Regions from separate parts of the Homo sapiens genome. Here region 2 is linked to region 1. Evidence: fine-mapped expression QTL. A gene starts in region 1. The other region holds a variant in brackets. All regions are shown on one strand. Distances are from middle to middle.

The links.
Region 2: its variant is fine-mapped to the expression of ACSL5 in whole blood (TOPMed, PIP above 0.99).

The regions. Positions count from the first base shown.
Region 1 is chr10:112,368,779-112,380,678 of GRCh38, forward strand. ACSL5 (acyl-CoA synthetase long chain family member 5) reads left to right here and starts at 5,338. Exons shown (of 21, transcript NM_203379.2): 1 at 5,338-5,491. RefSeq lists enhancers at 7,039-7,188, 7,070-7,570, 7,329-7,548, 7,571-8,071.
Region 2 is chr10:112,338,132-112,350,031 of GRCh38, forward strand. It overlaps the pseudogene GUCY2GP. Among named protein-coding and RNA genes, the nearest start is that of ACSL5, 30 kb to the right of the region's middle. The variant C/T (reference allele first, on the strand shown) is at 6,086.

The sequences.
Region 1 (11,900 bases):
TAGGTATGGCGGTACATGCCTGTAGTCCCAGCTACTCTGGAGGCTGAGGTGGGAGGATAACCTGAGCCCAGAAGGTGGAAGTTGCAGTGAGCCGAGATTGCACCACTGCACTTAGCCTGGGTGACAGAGGAAGACCCTATGTCAAAAAAAGAAAAATCCTGTGTTTTGAAGAATCCAGGCCTCTGTGGCTCAGCAAACGTAGGTGGCTGGAGAGAGGACGGACCGTTACCTAAATGGTGTGGTGGCACTGACCTGTAGTCCCAGTGCTCAGGAGCCTAAGGTGGGAGGATTACCTGAGCCCAAGAAGTCAAGGCTGCAGTGAGCCATGATGTTGCTACTGCCTGAGTGACAGGAGTGAGACCCTGTCTTAAAAAAAAAAAAAAAAAAAAAAAACGGCCAGGCACAGTGGCTCACACCTGTAATCCTGGCACTTTGGAAGGCCGAGGCAGGCAGATCACTTGAGGTAAGGAGTTCAAGACTAGCCTGGCCAACATGGTGAAACCCCATCTCTACTAAAATACAAAAATCAACCAGGTGTGGTGGCACACATCTGTAGTCCTGGCTACTCCGGAGATTGAGGCAAGAGAATGTCTTGAACCCCAGGAGGCAGAGGTTGCAGTGAGCCAAGACAGACCTGCTGCACTCCAGCCTGGGCAACAGAGTGAGACTCCGTCTCAAAAAAAAAAAAAAAAAAAGTTAATGCACATGAGAATCTGACCTAAGAAGACTTCTATGTTAATATGCTAGTCTCTCCTCCACACAAGAGTCAACAGGAAGTGGTATTAGCTTCTGATTTTGGTATTGGTCACCTGACCAAATACAGTAAGTGAGAGGTGACAGCGTGCTGGCAGCCCTCACAGCCCTTGCTTGCTCTTGGCGCCTCCTCTGCCTTGGCTCCCACTTTGGCGGCACTTGAGGAGCCCTTCAGCCCGTGCTGCACTGTGGGAGCCCCTGCCTGGGCTGGCTGAGGCTGGAGCCGGCTCCCTCAGCTTGCGGGGAGGTGTGGAGGGAGAGGCGCGGGCAGGAACCGGGGCTGTACGCGGGGCTTGTGGGCCAGCGAGAGTTCCGGGTGGGCGTGGGCTCGGCAGGCCCCGCACTCAGACCAGCAGGCCTGCCCCGCTGGCCCCCGGCAGTGAGAGGCTTAGCACCTGGGCCAGCAGCTGCTGTGCTTGACTTCTCGCTGGGCCTTAGCTGCTGCCTCCCTGTGGGGCAGGGTTCGGGACCTGCAGCCTGCCATGCTTGAGCCTTCCCCCACCCAACCCCACCAGCCATGGGCTCCTGCACAGCCAGAGCCTCCCCGACGAGCACCGCCCCCTGCTCCACGTTGCCCCTTCCCATCGACCTTCCAAGTGAGAGGTGACAGCATGCTGGCAGCCCTCACAGCCCTCGCTCGCTCTGGGCACCTCCTCTGCCTGGGCTCCCACTTTGGCAGCACTTGAGGGGCCCTTCAGCCCACTGCTGCACTGTGGGAACCCCTTCCTGGGCTGGCTGAGGCCTGAGCCCGCTCCCTCAGCTTGTGGGGAGGTGTGGAGGGAGAGGCGTGGGCGGAACCGGGGCTGCGCATGGTGCTTGCGGGCCAGCCCGAGTTCCGGGTGGGTGTGGGCTCCGCGGGCCCTGCACTCAGAGCGGCCGGCTGGCCCTGCCGGCCCCAGGCAATGAGGGGCTTAGCACCCCGGCCAGCGGCTGCAGAGGGTGTGCTGGGTCCCCCAGCAGTGCCGGCCCACCAGTGCCGGCCCACCAGTGCTGTGCTGGATTTTTTGCCAGGCCTTAGCTGCCTCCCGGCGGGGCAGGGCTCAGGACCTGCAGCCCGCCATGCCTGAACCTCCCCCACCCTCCGTGGGCTCCTGTGTGGCCGGAGCCTCCCCGACAAGCACCGGCCCCTGCTCCACTGCGCCCAGTCCCATCAACCACCCCAAGGGCTGAGGAGTGCCGGCTCATGGCGCGGGACTGGCAGGCAGCTTCACCTGTGACCCAGTGCTGGATCCACTGGGTGAAGCCAGCTGGGCTCCTGACTGCTGGGGACTTGGAGAACCTTTATGTCTAGCTAAGGGATTGTAAATACACCAATCGGCACGGTGTATCTAGCTCAAGGTTTGTAAACACGCCAATCAGCACCCTGTGTCTAGCTCAGGGTTTGTGAATGCACCAATGGACACTCTGTATCTAGCTACTCTAGTGGGTACTTGGAGAACCTTTGTGTCCACACTCTGTATCTAGCTAATCTAGTGGGGACGTGGAGAACCTTTGTGTCTAGCTCAGGGATTGTAAACACACCAATCAGCACCCTGTTAAAACAGACCACTCAGCTCTCTGTAAAATGGACCAATCAGCAGGATGTGGGTGGGGCCAGATAAGGAAATAAAAGCAGGCTGCCCCAGCCAGCAGTGGCAACCTGCTGGGGTTCCCTTCCATGCTGTGGAAGCTTTGTTCTTTCGCTCTTTGCAATAAATCTTGCTACTGCTCACTCTTTGGGTCTACACTGCCTTTATGAGCTGTAACACTCACCACGAAGGTCTGCAGCTTCACTCCTGAAGCCAACAAGACCACGAACCCACCGGGAGGAACAAACAACTCCAGACGCCCCACCTTAAGGGCTGTAACACTCACCGCGAAGGTCCACAGCTTCACTCCTGAGCCAGTGAGATCACGAACCCACCAGAAGGAAGAAACTCCAAACACATCCGAACATCAGAAGGAACAAACTCCGGACACGCTGCCTTTAAGAACTGTAACACTCACCGCCAGGGTGTGCAGCTTCATTCTTGAAGTCAGTGAGACCAAGAACCCACCAATTCCAGACACACAAAGGCTGAGGAGTGTGGGCACACGGTGTGGGACTGGCAGCCAGCTCCACCTGTGGCCACGGTGCGGGATCGACTGGGTGAAGCCAGCTGGCCTCCTGAGTCTGGTGGGGACTTGGAGAACCTTTATGTCTAGCTAAGGGATTATAAATACACCAATCGGCACTCAGTATTTGGCTCAAGGTTTGGAAACACACCAATCAGCACCCTGTGTCTAGCTCAGGGTTTGTGAATGCACCAATGGACACTCTGTATCTAGCTACTCTGGTGGGGACTTGGAGAACCTTTATGTCTAGCTAAGGGATTGTAAATACACCAATGGGCACTCTGTATCTAGCTCAAGGTTTGTAAACACACCAATCAGCCCCCCGTGTCTAGCTCAGGGTTTGTGAATGCACCAATTGACACTCTGTATCTAGCTACTCTGGTAGGGACTTGGGTAACCTTTATGTCTAGCTAAGGGATTGTAAATACACCAATTGGCACTCTGTGTCTAGCTCAAGGTTTGTAAACCATTCAGCACCCTGGTCTAGCTCAGGGTTTGTGAATGCACCAATCGACACTCTGGATCTAGCTAATCTAGTGGGGACATGGAAAACTTTTGTGTCAACACTCTGTATCTAGCTAATCTAGTGGGGACATGGCGAACTTTTGTGTCTAGCTCAGGGATTGTAAACACACCAATCAGCACCCTGTCAAAACGGACCAATCAGCTCTCTGTAAAACAGACCAATCGGCTCTCTGTAAAATGGACCAATCAGTAGGATGTGGGTGGGGCCAGATAAAAGAATAAAAGCAGGCTGTCCGAGCCCGGAGTGGCAACCACCTGGGGTTCTTTTCACACTGTGGAAGGTTTGTTCTTTAGCTCTTTGCAATAAATCTTGCTACTGCTCACTCTTTGGGTCTACGCTGCTTTTATGAGCTGTAATGCTCACTGCAAAGGTCTGTAGCTTTACTCCTGAGCCAGCAAGACCACAAACCCACCAGAAGGAAGAAACTCTGAACACATCTGAACATCAGAAGGAACAAACTCTAGACACACCGCCTTTAAGAACTGTAACACTCACTGCGAGGGTCCGCGGCTTCATTCTGGTAGCTAAACATACACAGATCAATGGGGCAGCATAGGGGCCAAGGCACTGCAGGGGTTCTCATGACTCTGAGTCAGGTGCTGTCTTGACCGACTGGTTGTGTGATTCCAGAAGCCTTCTTTCACCTGAAAAGGCCTCACTGGCCTCACCTATACAGTAAGTTTGCACATCATCTCCAGGGTTTCTTTCATTTCTACCCACTGTTTTTGTTTAGTAATGATGCCTTGCAGTCCTAATGATCTTGGAATCAAGAATGGTGACTAGAGAACTTCAAAGTGGAAAGAGAGGCTGGGCATGGTGGCTCATGCCTATAATCCCAGCACTTCGGGAGGCCGAGGCAGGCAGATCACTTGAAGTCAGGAGTTCGAGACCAGCCTGGCCAACATGGTGAAACCCTGTCTCTGCTAAAAATACAAAAAAAAAAAAAAAAATTAGCCAGGCATTGTGGTGCATGCCTGTAATCCCAGCCACTCCAGAGGCTGAGGCAGGAGAATTGCTTGAACTCAGGAAGTGGAGGTTGCGGTGAGACTCCGTCTCAAAAAAAAAAAAAAAAAAAAAAAAGGAGAGAGTAGGATGGCTGAGCCATGACGCAGTAGCAATGCTTCTTTTTTTTTTTTTTTTTTTGAGACAGAGTCTCGCTGTGTCGCCCAGGCTGGAGTGCAGTGGCGCGATCTTGGCTCACTGCAAGCTCCACCTCCCGGGTTCACACCATTCTCCTGCCTCAGCCTCCCAAGTAGCTGGGACTACAGGGGCCCACCACCACGCCCGGCTAATTTTTTGTGTATTCAGTAGAGACGGGGTTTCACCGTGTTAGCCAGGAAGCAATGCTTCCTATTCTAGCGCCTTGCTAAACTATGTGTGCTGCAGACTGTGTTCGTGATTCCGAATCCTAAAAACAACCGTCCTAGGCTTGTCTCTCAGCCTAGACTCTAGACTGATTTGGCTCATTTGGTTGTCTTGGAGACGTTCTAATTCTGAAGGGGGCAGTGGTCCCTTCTAGAAGATAGCTGGTCTGCAAATGCACACCTCTGCTTAGTCTGAATCCTAAAGTTATAGCTTGAGCCAATTAAAGTGGCTTCTCATTTTTCTCTCACTCTGATCTCAAGGAGCCCTTTTTCTTCTAGTAATCTAGACCTTCCTCTTCCTATCACAGTCTCAAGGATTGTGCCCCCAAAGCAGATGCAAAGCCCTGTCTACCCCTTCTCCTTCCCCTGAGGTAGAGCTTTATCGAAGGTTTCTCTTGGTAAACGTTAGCTTTCTGAACTAAGGGCCGTCTTTTTTTTTTTTCCCGCTTAAGCCCATTGCATAACAATCTCTTGTTTTAATCTTTTGCCCAACACTGCTTTTCTTACTGTCAGAGGTTACTACAAGTGTTTGAACAGGTAACTTCTACCTTTGAACTTCTGTTGTGACAGATTCAAAGGTTCCAGGGGAGTGTGTTGGCCACTCTCAGGACAGTACACAGTAGCTTCGGGTGTGTCCCAGTCAGTCCTAGGAGCTGTGGAAAGAGTAGAAGTGCCTGAATGTGGTGCTGAATCAATACAGCCAGCTGTGAGGGGAGCACTTCCTGGACCCAGGAAGGGAGAGTCTTCTTCCAAGGTAAGCTGCAATGATACTACCTGCACTATATTGAATATATCTGTGAGATAGTAGGGAGGGGATTGGTGTGGGGAAAGAAAGTGGGATTTGTTATGCTCAACCTAAGGCTCTTTAATAACATGAAATTACATTTAGTTGAATAGTAATCTCAGCTGACTTGTGTGGGAGGCAAAGAAAAAAATCAGTTGGAAAAGGGGTGGAGATATATGAGCTATCCAAATGCTAGCAGGGGATGGAATTGGAAGGGAACACTGATTTTGGTAAGTGTACTAAAGCACACCAAGCCAGAATGTGGGTCTCCTTCATCTTCCATTAAGAAATTTCTGTCTCAGTGTAGTTAGAAGGATCGTGCGTCAGCTGCTGAGGGCAGAGAGTCCCATTTGGCAGACAGAGAGGAAGGGAATCAGCAGATATTCGATTAGGTGCTGGGGACTGTTCTGGGTAGATTATGTATGTTACTTCATTGGTGTATCTCATCCTATAAAGCAGGTGGTATCCTTCCCATTTCACAGAGGCATAGTGCGTCTCCAGGCTGTTAAACAGCATGGCCTAAGCTACATAGCTCCAAGGTGGTGTGGCTAGAATTTGAGACTTGATTGGTCAGTTTCCACAGCCTGCCCAATAATGCAGAATTGTTGTGGGTTGCCAAAGCTTTCAGTTACCCCCTGAAATCCTGAGGGTGTCACTCATGTGCACAGAGGATTGATAGGAATACAACTCTGATGGGCCTTTAGAATGACTCAACCTTCCTGAACTTGAGCATTTTTACTGGAGGAGGTCAATAAAAAAAAAAGAAATAAAACCTCATCTTCCCCTGGCCCTGAGCCCTTTGGTGAAGGAAGACAGCACCCGGTGAAGGGCTCAGAGGTATTAGTGTGGCTGAGATTCGACACCCACTCTGCCATCCTCTGCTCTCCTCTAGAGGAAGTTGCCTCTTGGGGAGCTGAGTTCCTGAAACTAAGCAAATGACAAGTGCTCCTCCAGCCGTGAGATGAGCCAGAGGATGGAATGCCACAGGCCCCACTTCGTCTCCCAGCCCTTCATCTTTCTTCCATGTCCAAAGGCGGCTCCCCAGAGGCCAAGGGCTCAGCTCTTGTGTTCTCTGAGACTGTGGCACAGCTCACCCTGGCTTCCTTAGTAGGAAGCTTTTAAGAACTGCTCTGTAGAAAGAACAAACCCTAATCTAGCTCCAGCAAAGAGCCAGGATCATGCTGAACTTCCTGTGAGCCTTCGTGGGGGATCGAGGCTGGAGAAAGTGCTGCTTCATTCTGAGGTATCTGTGAGGTGGGGAAGGGGCAGGAAAATTTGTCATTTCGGCTTCCTAATCTGAGAATGGTAGCTCCAGGGCCCCCCTGTAGCCACAGCCTTAGGCGGATCAAAAATGAGACTAATACAGGTCCTGGTAATACTGGGGGTGACCAAGGCGAAAGAATCGATTTTTAAGTTAAGTTTTGAGGTGTGACTGTATCAGAGGGAAAGAAACCATGCCAATTGAACGACTCACAGCCCTGTCGTTCCTGACTTGCTTATTTTCTTGGCTTTGCCAGAACTTCTTCAGAGACCAAGGCAGGCAGCTCTGGCGACTGGAGAGAGGCGGGGTAGAAGGTGTTTGTGTGGGTCTGAGGGCTGAGGTACCCTCTAGCCAGACTTTCCTGTCCTCCGAATCCAGCAGGGAACAGCGTCACCTCTGCCTCTGTGAGGCTTCTGATCTGAGGGGGCACCTCAAGTCATTTTAGTTTGTTTGTTTTCATCTTAGTTGAAAGATGATAGGCCACAGGAGGGCAGGGTCAACTGTGTTGAGGCAAGCTGGCTTTTGTGTCGGCCCTTAGGGGCTGAGGTGAAAGGCTTTGACACGGAGCCAGGGTAGCTTTGGCAGCTTCTCCCCTCCTGGTCAGAACACTTCCACTTTCAGTTGTGAAAAAAAAAATTAAAACCAGGAAGTGAAGTCCCCGAGCACGTTAGAAAGCCTGACATGGCCTGACTCGGGACAGCTCAGAGCAGGGCAGAACTGGGGACACTCTGGGCCGGCCTTCTGCCTGCATGGACGCTCTGAAGCCACCCTGTCTCTGGAGGAACCACGAGCGAGGGAAGAAGGACAGGGACTCGTGTGGCAGGAAGAACTCAGAGCCGGGAAGCCCCCATTCACTAGAAGCACTGAGAGATGCGGCCCCCTCGCAGGGTAAGGGGACCATCGAGGGGGTGTTATTCAGCAAGGGGGTCTTGTGAGGGTGTGACAGAGGCCAAGGGGGCATCCTGACCCCCGACTTTCTTTAAGCGACTTAGAATCAAGGGCCGGCTGAGTTCCACGGGCACATCATGCTGTCTCCCTCCTGGTCTCGGTCATGCCTTCAGACCCTGTGTCAGGAGGAGCAACGGGAAGGAAGGATGTGGGGCATGCATGGGGCTCACTTTCCTTCTCTCGACTCTCTTGGGGAAGGTGAACCAAAACAGAGACCTCTTTTTGTGGGTCTGAGCATCCAGCATAGCTCCCCTGAGGTGGGCTGGGGGTTTGCCCTCAATTTTATGTTGGGTAAGACTGATGAATGAGACCAATGGGGTGGGAGAGACAGATGAATGGAGCTGAGTGTATTTTAGGAAGTAAGGCCACAGGTTAAGTCTCAGGTGCTGCTTAATTCCTAAGTACTTCCTTCCCAATGCCCACTCCCTGAGGGTCCTAAGGTGAATCTCAAAGACCCTCAGGGAGTAAGCACTGGAAAGGGACTCTACCACTGGAGACCCTCAGGGAATAAGCACTGGAAAGGGACTCTACCACCGGAGACCCTCAGGGAATAAGCACTGGAAAGGGACTCTACCACCGGAGACCCTCAGGGAATAAGCACTGGAAAGGGACTCTACCACCGGGGCTTGGTACCTTCTGAGATATCAGCCTTTTTTTGGTGGTCTGAAAGGTAGAATTGAATCTATAGCTCCAATGTGTAGGTGATTAGTATTCTATATCAGAGGCAGAGTCTTAAAAAATAAAGTTAAGGCCGGGCGCAGTGACTCACACCTGTAATCCCAGAACTCTGGGAGTCTGAGGTGGGTGGATCACCTGAAGTCAGGAGTTAGAAACCAGCCTGGCCAACATGGCGAAACCCCATCTCTACTGAAAATACAAAAATTAGCTTGGCGTGGTGGCGTACGCCTGTAATCCCAGCAACTCAGGAGGCAGGACAATTGCTTGAACCTAGGAGGCGGAGGTTGCAGTGAGCCGAGATGGCACCACTGCACTCCAGTTTGGATGACAGAGCAAGACTCTGGCTCAAAAACAACACACAAACAAACAAATAAAAAAACATTGAAAACTGACTTAGTTTTCTTTTAAAAAAGGAGTAATTGGTTTTGTTTATTTCTCCCTTCATATTCTGATATGGAGTCACTCTGTGGTAGTCCCCTCCGATTGATCAGTATTCAAGGTTAAACACAGAACATGTCTTGAAAGAGGCATGGTGTAAAATTTTATAGCCATCTTTTGTGTATTTGGCATAATAAAAGGAACAAAAACCTAAATAAAACAAGAAGTGTAAGTGCAAATGCTTATAGGACAGGCAAGTAATATAGAGAAGTAAAGTAGATGGTGTGTAATAAGATGCTAATGGTGGAAACTTTAGCAAAATTCAGAGCAGGCATACCCCAGATAAATGCATTCAAATTTAATTATTAAAAAAGAGAAAACACTTTTTAATCCAGACCAAACAGAATATTTCAGCCTAGCCTGACCTAAAATAGTCTCTCCCAGGCTATATTGTAATTTTTTGAGGGCAAAGACACCAACAACAACATCAGCGTGTCATTGCATACCTAACCATCCACCTATAGTGAGACCACAGATACTACATGGAGGCTGGAGATGGAGGAAGGAGAGAGAAATGAATGGAGAGAGGGAAGATGAAGCCAGGGAAGTACCAGTACACAGTAGGTACTCTTATATTTAATCAAGACAATCTTCTTCTTCTTGTTTTTTTTTTTTTTTTTTTTTTTTTTTTTTTGGAGGAGCCTCACTCTGTCACCTAGACTCCCAGGCTTGAGTGCAGTGGCAACATCTTGGCTCACTGCAACCTCTGCCTCCCCAGTTCAAGCAATTCTCCTGCCTCAGCCTCCTGAGTAGCTGGGATTACAGGCATGCACCACCATGCCCAAATAATTTTTGTACTTTTAGTAGAGACAGGGTTTCACCATATTGGCCAGGCTGGTCTCAAACTCCTGACCTCAAGTTATCTGCCTGCCTAGGCCTCCCAAAGTGCTGGGATTACAGGTGTGAGCCACTGCACCTGGCCTATAGGATTTGCCAGCTTCTTAGAAACCAGGAATACAGTGTCTGCTCCTGTCTGTCTCTCATATGCCTCCTCAGCAGATGAGCAGACCCTCAGCTGGAGTGCAGTCAGAGGTGACTCTTGTGCCTGGCAGCATCAAGCAAGGGTGACGTAACCCCAGCAGCCATGAGTCCAGCCATCACTGCTTATCACATTCTGCTGGAAATGCATCTGGGTCTATTTCTCCCCTCTATGTCTGTACATCCTGAGGTCGGAAAGGGACTCTCTCACCAACTTGTCCTCCCTGGCGCAGGGCCTGACACTTCCTAGGTTCTCAACTCATTGTTTGAATAAATACATGAGATCTGGAGTTTGGAAGGTCAGACAGCCCGTGCAATGCTGTGGTCAGGCCACACTATTAGCCTTCTTTGGGGAAGCTGGTGGATCTCCCAGTCTTCATGGGCCATTCTATTCTAAGAGTTGTGAGGTTGCGAGTGGCTCAAGTTGAGGATTTGAGGTCTGGGGTAAAGCTAGGTCAGAGACAGGCCATGGTTCCCTACAACTAGAAGTGCTCTGTTTAAATAGAAATGAGGGCTTGTTGGCCGGGCGCAGTGGCTCATGCCAGTAATCCCAACACTTTGGGAGGCCGAGGCAGGCAGATCACTTGAAATCAGGAGTTTGAGACCAGCCTGGCCAACATGGTGAAACCCCATCTCTGCTAAAAATACAAAAGCTAGCTGGGCGTGGTGGCAGCTGCCTGTAATCCCAGCTACTCGGGAGGCTGAGGCAGGAGAATCGCTTGAACCCAGGAGGCGGAGGTTGCAGTGAGCTGAGATCTCGCCACTGCACTCCAGCCTGGGTGACAAGAGTGAAACTCCATCTCAAAAAAAAGAAAAAAAAAAAAAAGAGATGAGGGCTTGTTAAAACCTTTGCACAGAAGTGGAGGGGCAGTAATCGTTCAAGACCGTGGTCATCTCTTTTCTTTTGGGACATCTCGTAATAGAACATCTGATATTGGCAAGGATGTGAAAACTGAGGAAAAGGGAAGGAAAGGGGAGCTAGATTTGATTGAGGACTTCCCATGTGCCTGACAGCATACCAACTGTTCTACACACAGCATCTCCTTTAAGTAGCGATTTTCACCTGCTCCTTCTGTGTACAGTGGCGGGGAACTGATGCTCAGTGACTCTAAGTAACTGTCCCCAGGGCTACACATGTAGTAAGTGAGGAGCTGTTGCTCTGGTACCTGGAAGGGCACGACCTTGAAAGTTTGCCCCTGGCAATGACACCGTTGACAAGAAAGCTTGTTGCCTGCACTTTGAAACTGTTGACCCTTGACCACTGGTTGGGACAGGCAGTGCAAGGGCTGATTCTGCAGAAAACTAAGGCAAGAAGTCTGCTTTCCCAACCTCTTGCCTCACCCTGGCACAGGTGACAGGGTCCTAGCACTTTGTCCGGCCTATCTTTTTACAGACCCCCTTATCAGATCCAGTGGACTTCTGACACTGCTTCTTCTTACCCCAGTTCTGTCATAATATACTTGGTCAGCAGCAGGCCTGGGATGCCCTTTGGGGGTGTTACTGACACAAGTTGTCCCGGGGTCGGGATTTGGACTGTGACTCACTTGAAGCCCAGTGGTGGATCAAGGTTGACTCTATCGACCTGAGCTCCTGTGGGATTTGTCACTTCTGGGGTCACATCCTGTGGGTGACTCAACTATCCTATGCTATCTTAATGGACTGACTTAAGAGGCTCTTGGTATTTGACTTAACATGAGATCTCCTGATAAATGCTACTCAGCTCAACTGGCCAATGTCTGGCCCCACCCAGGCTCTCTGGAGTATGTGAAGGCAATGGCTCCAGAGGTGCAGTGTCTACACTGGGCCCCACACACCATCTCATTCATCCTTGGAGACTTTTTCTTCCCCCTGCCACCCCCCGCCCCCCAACCTTTTAACTAAAGATGGACCCTCCACCTCCAGCAGAAATACCTCTTCACCATTTCCCTCCCCTAAATGTCCCACTTGTCCCACTTTAGTGCCTCTAGCACATCTGGCCATTCCCCTTCTCCACTTCCATTTGGCTCCATCCAACCTAATGAGATGATTGGTCTCTCCGTGAAGAAAGTAGATAGAGAGACACAGACAACAGTTGAG
Region 2 (11,900 bases), 31 kb before region 1:
AGGTGAGAAAGGACAAGTGGAAATTACGTTCTAAGCTGCAGCAGCAGTCACTGTCTACACTGCAGAAGCACCAGGCCCCACAACTGATTCATCCATGCCAAAGTAGCAAGGATGAAATAATCCACACTCTAGGACTCCACTGTCCTTTAAGGGAGCCACCAGTCACATAAGGCTATTTAAATTTAAATTAATTAAAATTAAATAAAATTTAAAATTCAGTTGCCCAGGCACACTAATGTTCAGTAGTCACAGGAGGCTAGTGGCCACCATATTGGACAGTGCAGATCCGCGACATTTCCATCATCACAGAAGGTTATTTTGGACAAAGCTAAGTATAATCTAGAAGCCAGCTTGGGAATCACCTAGAAGATTTTTTTTTTTATATGGAGCCTCGCTCTGTCGCCCAGACTGGAGTGTAGTGGCGTGATCTCGGCTCACTGCAAGCTCTGCCTCCCGGGTTCACACCATTCTCCTGCCTCAGCCTCCTAAGTAGCTGGGACTACAGGCACCCACCACCAAGCCCAGCTAATTTTTTGTATTTTTAGTAGAGACGGGGTTTCACCGTGTTAGCCAGGATGGTCTCGATCTCCTGACCTCGTGATCCGCCCGCCTTGGCCTCCCGAAGTTCTGGGATTACAGGCGTGAGCCACCATGCCCGGCCAGGAGATTATTTAAAATGCAGAATCTCAGGTGCCACACCAGACCTACTGACCCAGAATCTGCATTTTAATAAGAGTCCCAGGTGATCCATCTGCACATTAAGGTTTGGGAAGCACTAGTATGGAGTCACAAGACCACCTTGGCTTTTGCTAGCAGAATGTTCTTCTATTCAGAATGCCCTGCCTGGCAGAAACGATGCAGAGAACAGAACAGAGATACACTAAGATCTACGGGCAGCCACCTGGCCTCAGAAATACCTGATAAAGCCCTACTGCGGCATAGAAGAGCTCTTCCCACTGCTGGCTCTTGACAAAAGAGCTGAGGTCCACAGAAATCATCACACTAGATGAGTTACTGTTGATGCCTTTTGACACAGGTGTGGCTCTCTGGGATGGCTGTAAAACAGGAAGTAATTTGGTCACTCTCAGCAGCAAGGCCAAGTACAAAAGGGAATGCATTTTATAGATGAGGAAGCTGAGTGCCAAGGTCAGACAGTTAATAATAAGAGAGCCAGGATTTGAACCCTGATCTTTCTGACCTGTTACATGCATCACTCTAGGACAGCATCATCCAATCATCCATGCCTTCTATGGCATCTGTACCACCATGGAGGTGTAGGTTAAGAGGGAAGGCTCTGAGGTCAGACTGCCCAGACTCAAGTTCTGGCTGTGGCACTTAATTAGATGTGTGGCCTGGGGTTAGAGCCATTTTCTTAAAGAACATCTAACCAAGTTGTCTCTGTTTAACACTCTCAGTGCCTCCCAACACCTAGAAAACACCTTCAAAGCATAGGAATCTTGTTTTCAAGGAGAATCTTATCTGGAACCCTAATGTAGAAATGAGGTAGATCGAAGCAGAGCTGCTTTGGTGGAAGATGGAAGAGTAAGTGTCTGAATCCCCGGGGACGTTTGGAGATGAGTTACTAATGAATCACAGTCACCTGCTCTTAGCATGTTGAAGCCTCCCTGACTTGGTACCAGCTAAGCTTCCCAGCCCTGACCATCCCACATCTCATTATATCCTGTGTACTTCACTCTTTTTCATCACTTGCAAACTCACTCTTCTCAAATGTCACCTCCTCTCCAAAGCCTTCCAGATGCTGAGACCTTCAGTCCCTCCATCTGCAAGGCTTCCATCTCACCGTGGAAACACCTCTCTGACACTTGCCTCCCTCTGGAGGCATCTCATTTGTGGGATATCCCCATACCTTGTATGATGCTTGGCCTGTAGTTAATGGTCAAGTCCCTGTCAAGCAAATGAACATTATTGTATTAGTCATCAATTGATTAAAGGAGTTAATGTGGTTTTGAAAATAACTAAATCCGGCCAGGAGCGATGGCTCATGCCTGTAATCCCAGCACTTTGGGAGGCTGAGGCGAGTGGATCACCTGAGGTCAGGAGTTCGAGACCAGCCTGACCAATATGGTGAAACCCCATCTCTACTAAAAAAAAAATAGAAAAACTTAGCTGGGCATGGTGGCAGGCACCTGTAATACCAGCTACTGGGGAGGCTGAGGCAGGAGAATCACTTGAACTCGGGAGGCAGAGATTGGAGTGAGCCGAGATCGTGCCATTGCACTCCAGCCTGGGCAACAAGAGCGAAATTCCATCTCAAAAAAATTACAAAACAAAAAATAAAATAACTAAATCCTCCCCAGGAGACAGCTTTAATATCTGAACACCATCTACAGTTCTCACCCACAGAGTAACAGAGCAAAGGGAACTTTAGAGACTGTCAATCATTTGTAAGTATTTAGAAACTGAGTCTTGGGGAGGTAAAATGACATTCTCAGATTCAGCAAGCAAGTGGGAGGCCTAGAACCAGAACTCAGGCCTGCAGACTCTTCATGAAGTGCTCACTGAATAAATTAGCCTCTTGCTCTTATAAGCTCCTAGATGAGGTCCCTTCCACACATCTCCAGCAGTGACCAGGAAATGGGACATCTGGGTCACATATGGCCTCACCTTGTTCTGGGGAAGAATGGTGATATCATCAAAATTGATTTGCCACCAGATGTCTTTGTTTTGCCTCTGCATCCTTAAAATCAGACCTATGATGGCAGCTCCCAAGACAGGAATGAGGATCATCAATGTCAGAAGCACAGCAGTCACGCCTGGAGGGTAGAGGCATATTACCCAGGCCTTGCCCAAGAGCAGTAGCAAGTACATCCCTGCCCAGCTGGGCCCAGCCGAGCAGGTTCCTCAAAGGCTGTCCTCTGGAAGGTCTGGGGTAGGACACACAAAGTCTACGCTGACTTGTCTCTTCCAGGAATTCTTCCCTGACTACCACCCTAGTTCCCACTGGAACTGCATTCACCTCCCGCTTTGTATAGAAAGTTCCACTGCAGAGAAATAATAATGATGACTTCTAACTCCACCAGCAGTGTTTACAAAACATTTACTGTGTGTTCTCCTTAGGGTGGTTCTCCAGGCATGATCCATCTAATTCCAGGGCTGGGCTCCTAACCACTGGGGCACACTCCCCTCCCCAGACTCTTTCAACCTCCCTAGAGGTGAAGTTCCTGAGACTCAAATCTCAGGAGCCAGTTTCCCTTAGAGCAGTGATTCTCCACAGGGGAAAAAGGTGATGTTGCCTCCTAGGGGATATTTGGCCATGTCTGGAGACATTTCTCATTCCGACTAGAGGGCTGCTATAGGCATCTGTGGGTAGAGGCCAGGGGTGCCGCTAAACATCTTATAATATACAGGGATGCATGGCTTGAAATGCCAGCCTCCCCATACACAAAAATTACCTGGCCCAAAATGTCAATAGTGCTGCCTGCCATACAGAGACCCTACTATAGAAAGTCTTTCCCTGCTACGTTCTCCAAACAGCCATACTTACCCGTAAAAGCAGACTGAGTTTCACAGAGCTCATTATAAAATCCACAGCCAGGTCTGTCTTCAGGAAGGGAGCCATGCGGCCAGGTCATATTGGAGAAATTCCCTGTGGGTCTTTAAAAAAAAAAATAAAGGTCAGCGTCAGCTCAGTTTGTTCTATTTGACTCTACCTCATGTACAGCAGAGACAACGGAAAAATGCATGTTATTTGCAAAACTCAAGCCTTGGTCTCTCAATTCAAACTTCTGTCCAGTTTGCCCAACTCTCCTAGGCTCTTCAAATCCAGCCTTCAGGTAATCTCATTCAAGGAAGGCAGTATCTTTTTGCTGTTGAAATAGCTTCCTCAATCTTTTGACTTAAACCATGTCTCTTTTGATTTAAAAGATGACATGCCAAGTCAATGTTGCTGGGACTTTCATCTGTGTTTGACGTAGACAAATCTTGTTATATAGCAGCTTGACATTTCACAGAACAAAACATCTCCTCCTATGTGGAGTGTGCCTGTTCTGACAATACTAAAGACCTAGTTTGCCATGGTTACTTTGTTTTCTGGCCCATTTTGGTCCATTAAAATTCCATAAGAGAAGGGGAGAAAAAAGCCTCAAGTTGCCTGGGTGTGGTGGCTTACACCTGTAATCCCAGCACTTTGGGAGGCTGAGGTGGGTGGATCACCTGAGGTGAGGAGTTCAAGATAAGCCTGGCCAACATGGTGAAACCCCGTCTCTACTAAAAATACAAAAATTAGCTGGGTGCAGTGGCATGCACCTGTAATACCAGCTACTCAGGAGGCTGAGGCAAGAGAATCACTTGAACTTGGGAGGCAGTGGTTGCAGTGAGCCCAGATTGTGCCACTGTACTCCAGCCTGGGCAACAGAGCAAGACTGTCTAAAAATTTAAAAAGCCTCAAGTTGAATCTGGATTGGAAGTAGTGGCAGTGGGGGTGAGTGGAAATTGAATTACATCTTAGGTTTCCTTTTAGTTTTCTCATTGATTTGTAGCTGAAAGAACAAAAACAAAGTTTTGTTTTGTTTTTTCCCCAGGATTCCTGGGTTCTGGTTGCTGGTGTCCAAATGTGTCTGGGAGTCAGGCTGTCTAGGTGAGCCATTTCGGGGCCTGTAAACCCATCCCTTCGGGGACGCTGTGCTCCACCACCCGCTCTGGGCCCAGGGCCTCTCCCCTAGACCATGGCCAATGGGACCACTGGTTGGAACACGAGAGGAGAACAGGGCCCTGGTGGAGGTGCAGTTCGTGGGTACTCTGTCCTACACTGAAATCTGAAACGGTCAAGCCATAACCTCAGTCAAGGGAATAAAATCACCTTAAAGGCCCAAAGTCTATCTTCATGAGTTCTAAGAGCACCAGGCTACTTGGGGGATTCTAGGGACTGGATCCCAAACTGGCCTTCCCAGGGCCCTCCTCTTCCTATGTCTCTTTCTGTAGCACAATCTACACTTGCAGAAATGTCCGGCCAGTATCTGATTACTTTGATAACTGTCATAATGAAGAAAAGAAAGTAAAAGGGGCCCATTTTCAGACTTCTGCAGGGCATAGACAGAGTAATCCATGTGCCTTTCTCCCTGGGCATCCACAAACACAGGGCCTGTGATTCCTAGAAAGACAGGAGATTGCACAAGGTCAGGAGAGGGACAGCAACATGTGGCTCAAAATGCCAGCCTGCCCCAACTCAAATCAACAGAACCCCCTTCCCCAACAGCCATTAAAAACCAGACACAGGGTTTCTGTCATTTCAGTGAATCTGAGACAGGGTCAATGGGGACCAGCAAAGGGAAGAAGACAGTTCAGAGATAGCATCCTGTTAGGGTTAAAGGGCCACACTGGGCAGGCAGATGTATTTTCTCAGGCCCACACTGGGGAAGCTCATCCAGCACTTAAAAATAAAAAAAAAAGTTTGTTTCCAGTTAATTTCACTTAAAACCTGAGATTTATGCTTCCCTCGAACAATCAGATGTGACAACATGTCAGCAGTCGTCTGGGGCCGAGGGACAGCTGCTTCCTCCAGTTCCTCCCATCTTCCTCCCCTGACCCCACCCACCCCACGCCTCCATGCTGCCAGGCCCTGGGGCACAAGTTTGCAATCTCTGTTCTCATGGCAGCCCCTTCCCTCCTGGTCTGGGTGCAGAGGCCTTGCAGGCCCTTTGCAGAGGCTTGGTGCAGAGGCTTTACAGGGCCTGATGTGCTGTTTGCTATTTCTTAGAACGTGATTAACTCCACTACTGAAGGAACGCATCTTGGAAGCACAGCTCCTTCACACCCCAAACTAGTACGTAGGTTCTGACAAAGGACTTATTGCTGATTTTGTCCCACAGGGGACAGAACACAAAATTACCACTGATAAAGCACCTAATAAGTGCTGGGCACTGCAGGTGGTGTTGACTTCCCATGTCTAATCCTAATTAACCCTTCAGAAGGGGCACCATCATCTGCTCCCAACAAGCAAAGCTTGGAGGCATGAACTCCTCGGGTCTTCCTGCCAGGGCCACGAAGAGGCACAGCTGGTACACAAACCCAGGCCTATCAGGCCCCAAGTGCCATGTTCTTTCCAGCATGCCACACTGCCTTTCTG[C/T]ATACACATCCGTGGGCATCCTGAATGTGGGTATTGAGCCTGAGGTTTGCAGGGGAAAGGCCAGAGCTCCTGCGACAACCAGGGCCACTTCTTTCAGTGTGCATTGCGTTCACTGAGCCAAAGCCAGTGGGGTTGGGGGATTCTGCTCCCTAACTCGACCTCCTAGAAGAGGCTTTCCTTCTGGAATGGTGCAAAAGCCCTTCGGCACTGGCCGATGGAGTGGTTGCCACCATGTGGCAGAAATGAACACAGGAAGCAGAGACAAATACTCCAGTTCTGCCAAGGCTAGTCCTGTAGCCCATAAGGGAACAGAAGCCAGTTTGGAAGGGGTGAGGAGGGCCCTTTGGTCATGAGTCCCTGAAAGGGGCCCACGGGTCCCAGAACCAAAGTGGGATGACTCAGGCTCTTAAAGGGCCTCACTGCTCTTCACAACCTCCCCTCATTCCAGCATGAAGAATTTCTAAAACCACAGGAAAGAGGAATTAATTGATCTGGCAGAGGGGATTAAACTGAGAGCAGAAAGAAGGATCCCCCCTTGTGACCTCTCCCCTTTTTAAGCAAATGCCTTAGGGTCTGAAAGGAAAGGAGAGAAGTTGGTGAATATTTCCACTTGCAAAAGGCATTAATAGGGTAAACGCGACCTGCTTCTATGAAAACTTCAAAGAGCAGGCCTTGGCTGCTGTCTTTAAATTTTCAGACAAATTTTAGGTAATAATTTATAAGCCAAAAGCCAAAAAGATAAGCCAAAGCAAGGATAAAAATAGTGACCATTTGGCTAGGCACAGTGGCTCACACCTATGATCCCAGCACTTTGAGACACCAAGGCGGGAGGATCTCTTGAGCCCAAGAGTATGAGACCAACCTGGGTGACAGAGCAAGACCCTATCTCAAAAGAAAAAAAAAAAGAACCTACTATTTAATGAGCACATACTATGTGCCAGGTGCATGTCATATTCTCATTACTCCTATGTTACAGGATAGCAAAGAACATGAGCCCTGGAGAAGGCAGACTTGATTTTGAATCCTGGCTCCACCATCTAATAACTTTGTGACCTTAGACAAGGTACATAACCTCTGTAACCTCAGTTTACTCACCTGAATAATACAGATAGAAATAGTACCTGCCTCATGGGCTGTGTGAGGATTCAATTAGGTAATACTCGGAAGCTCTTAGCACTTGGCCTAGTGTAAGGTAAGCCCTCCCTAAATGCTGGTTATTATTTCTGCATGTGGTAACAGGTGTTATCCCTATCTTACAACTGAGAAAACGAGAACAAGAAAGATCAAAGCAGTTGGTCAGCTGAATGTGATTTGAAAGCGGTTCACTCCCCAACCTATACTCATCCCCACCAGGAAAGCAAGAATGAGACTACAACCCATCTTCAGAAGTCTGTGGTGCCAGGGCCCCCATCACAGAGGCTGCAGATGGGAAGTGACCCCGGGAGACAGGTCTCACATTTCTGAATTTTATTCTTGATGGACTCAGTTTGAATGGAACTGCGGGGGAGAATTCCCAGGGGAAAGGGGATAAGGTGCCCAGCAGCCTCCTCTCCTGGTCTGGGCAGGCTCTGGCCAGAAGGATGAGCGAACTGTGGGAGCTGGGAGGTCTTAACCTCAACTACACTTACAGAAGGAAGACAGGAATCCCCATAAGAAAGATGAATTCTGGAGTTCAGTGTGAGGCAGGCCCTGAAAGAGGCCTTTAATTACATGCCCAAGATCTCAAAGCCCCCACCGACTGGAGCCGCAGGTCTGAGTTTAGAACACCCTCCAGCAGTAAGCCACCTACCCTGCACTGTGGTCTGACTGGAACCCTTCAGAGCGCTGACCAGCTGCCACCCATCCTGGAAGTCGCCTCCAGCCTTTACCACCTGCTTCACGGTCTCAGCATAGAGCAGGACGGCGTCGTGAAGGTAGGCAGAGTAAGGGCTCACCTTCAATAAGACAAGCAAAGCAGGGTCTCAAGAGGTTCTTGGCCTCTTGGGTCACCGTCCAGCACTAAATTAGGAGGAATCTCTGTTCCGTCCGCCCGGCAGTGGCACACAGCACTTTCTTCCCCCATCCCACAGAGCAGAGGGTCCAGCATACACCTGCGCCTGCACTATGAAACCCAGACGTCGCAGTCTTCATTTTCCTTCTGAATGCTGCGTTTCCCACTTAGATCTTCTGATCCTTCAGGGACGCTCTTCAGGCCACAGGTGGGAGGGAGCATGGTTTCAGGGAAAGAGGGTACATGCTGGAACTAGACCAGCTCAGCTCCCTACTGGCTATGAGTCCCGAGGTAAGTTCCACAGCCTCTCTGAATCTCAGCTCACTCGTTTATAAAATGGGGATAGGCTGGGCGCGTTGGCTCACGCCTGTAATCCCAGCACTTTGGGAGGCCAAGGCGGGCGGATCACGAGGTCAGGAGTTGGAGACCAGCCTGGCCAACATAGTGAAACCCCATCTTTACTAAAAATACAAAAATTAGCCCAGCGTGGTGGCAGGTGCCTGTAATCCCAGCTACTCAGGAGGCTGAGGCAGGAAAATCACTTGAACCCAGGAGGCAGAGGTTACTGTGAGCCGAGATTGCGCCACTGCACTCCAGCCTAGGTGACAGAGCGAGACTCCATCTCAAAAAAAAAAAAAGGAGGGGGATAAAACTGCTGTTGGGTTGAATGTGACAATAGTTAAATGAGGCATAATAGGTAAACTATCCATTGCAGTCCCTGACCCTTAGTAGGTCTTCAGGACGTGATGTCTTCTATTGGGCAGTCAAGGAAAATACAAGTGCCTACTAAGTGCCAGGCACTGTTCTCCCAACAGTACCAGATACAAAGCTGACACTTAGTAGACTGTTACTCAAATATTCTTTAATTGGTTATCTTGTCTTATATGTTGGGATCCACAATCGGCCCCCTCATTTCTAATCAAACTCCTTGTCATCAGTGGCCTGTGGTCACCTTAGGCTTCAGCTTGGCCCCACACTGGAAGTAGCTCCAGCTCTGGACAAAGGTCTCTCTTCAAAAACTTCTCTGTGAAAGCCAGATACTGCCTCCTCATCACACACATACTGGGATTACCACAGGCGGACCCTCTCTCTCCTGATCATCTCCTCCCTTTTCCAGCCCACCTGCTGGCCCTGACCTGTCCTAGCTCCACATCTCTGACCACTCCATCCTGGGTCTAGGTCCTGGCATCCTCCTGGGGAAGGAAATTGTCATGGTCTGGGTACCCATTAATATCTGTTCTGGGCCAGGCACAGTGGCTCACGCCTGTAATTCTAGCACTTTGGGAGGCCAAGTCAGAAGGATTGCTTGAGCCCAGGAGTTCAAGAGCTGCCTTGGCAACATAGGGAAATCGCGTCTCTACAAAAAAAATTTTTTTTTAATTATCAAGACATGATGGCATGTGTCTATATTTCCAGCTACTTAGGAGGCTGAAGTGGGAGGGTTGCTTGGGCCCAGGAAGTCGAGGATGTAGTGAGCATGACTGCACCACTGCACTCTAGCCTGGGTGACACAGCGAGACCTTCCCTCAAAAGAAGAAGATATATACTTTGCTTCTTCCATGGACAATGTTACTAAATACACACCACCACAGCCTGGGAGGTAGATGCCATTATCAGTCCCATTTCACAGAAGAAGAGACCGAGGTGTAGGGAGGTTAAGCAATTCACTACAAGGTCCTACAGTTAGCAAACAGCAGCAGTAGGATGGGGGCATAGGCCTCTGCTCCAAAGGCCTTTCACCCAGTAACCTCTGAGGTATAAATTCACAAGAGAGCATCAAACTGCTGTTTATTTTGGGCGTGGAAGATGGGGAAGTGCATGTGTGTGTGCACCTGCATGTGTGTAAGGGGGGTAGGGAGAGATGAGGAGAAATAAGAGGGAGAAATGCAAAGGCAAACACAAATATGATCAAAGAAGGGGAGGAGGGAGCCTGAGCTGGAAGACCCGGCATCACACCTGCTCCTCCCAGGAGATGGTGCTGCGGAAGGGCGACCTCCTCGGTGTTTGGTAGACTTGTTTCCAAAAGCCTTCGTCTCCACGGCCTTTTCTGTAGGAGCTGAGGGCAATGAGAAGCAGTGACCCATACACCTTTTGGAGGTGCATCATTTTCTGATTTGTCAGTACTTCCTTCCAAAAACGGTCCTAAAAAGTAATAAAATAAATGTTGTTATTCGGTAGGAAATGCCTTGGCAAGGGCACTGCGTGTAACACAATGTTTAATTTGAACCACTACATTCTAATTCCTGGAAACACAGTGATTCCAGAAGGCCTGCAATACAAGGTCCACATTCTCTAGCTGGCATATAAGCAGTGGAAGGAAAGCCACAAATAAAAAGAAAAAATGTTCCTGGTGCATACAGCTGCTAAGATGCAGAAAGCTTACCTACTAACAATGATTGCAAAAACTTAAAAAGCTTAAGACTATAGATTCTTGCTTTTTTTAAATTTTTTTTGCTTGTGGCATTATCATTATAATCTACGTTACTATTATGAACAGTATATACCCACTCATTATACATATATGTATGTATATATACATATATATGACATCACACTCACACATATATATATATATATGATGATATCATACCATAATGCAGCTTGATTTTTTTCCACCTAAACCTATACTGGGAATAGTTTCATAAAATAGATTTATGCTATTCTTTCATGAAGCAGCATGAATTCAATTGCATAGACATTGGTGTATTCTTAGTTCTACCTTCTTTCTGCCATTACACACCAGTTGGAATGGATCATCAATGTGTGGGAGAAAGCAACAGGGGAGTTGAAAAGTTTCCCTGCCAAAACAATGTGCCTGAAGGCAGAGATGAGAGGAAAAGTGAAGAGAAAGGGAGGCGGTCACAATGGATATCTAGGGTAAGAGAGTGTTCTGGAAAGTCTGGCATGCCTTTAGGATTCCAGCTCCCTACCCAAAGAAATCTGAGATGCTTTTGTGGATCTGAAAGACTTCATGATAAAGAAAGAAAAATCTGGGACATTACTATATATCTCCCTTTATTTTCTTCTGTCCTATTTCAGCTTCTTGTGATTTTTTTAAAAAGCTTATTTTAGAAAGATAAAACTGCTAGAAAAATAATGCACCGTGTCCATAGGAAAAGGCAAGTAGCTTTTGTAGATGCCTGTTGTGTAAGATGCTTACAAGCACAGACACAATAGCCCCCTGTGAGGCAGATACTACGTGCATTATTTCCATGCATCAGTGCACTTGATGAGAGGTAGAAAAGGAGCCCAGGCCACCTGGGTTTGAATGCTAGCTCTCCCTCATACTAGTTGGATGGCCTTGGGCAAGTTTTGGCACCTCTCTGAACCTCAGTTTCCTCTTCTGTAAAACGAGGATGATAAAAGTGAGGTGACAACGTGCTAGCAGCCCTCGCTCGCTCTTGGCGCCTCCTTGGCCTCGGCGTCCACTCTGGCGGTGCTTCAGGAGCCCTTCAGCCCGCCGCTGCACTGTGGGAGCCCCTTTCTGGGTTGCCCGAGGCCGGAACCAGCTCCCTCTGCTTGCAGGGAGGTGTGGAGGGAGAATCGCGGGCGGGAACCGGGGCTGGGTGCCGCTCGCTGGACAGCGTGAGTTCCGGGTGGGGGTGGGCTCCGCACTCGGAGCTCCGGCCAGCGCCGCCAGCCCCGGGCAGTGAGGGGCTCAGCACCTGGGCCAGCGGCTGCGGAGGGTTCACCGGGTGCCACAGCACTGCCGGCCCGTCCGCGCCACACTCGAATTCTCACCGCGCCTCAGCTGCCTCCCCACGCGGCAGGGCTTAGGACCTGCAGCTGCCATGCCTCCCCTCCGCCCCCCCCGCCACCAGTGGG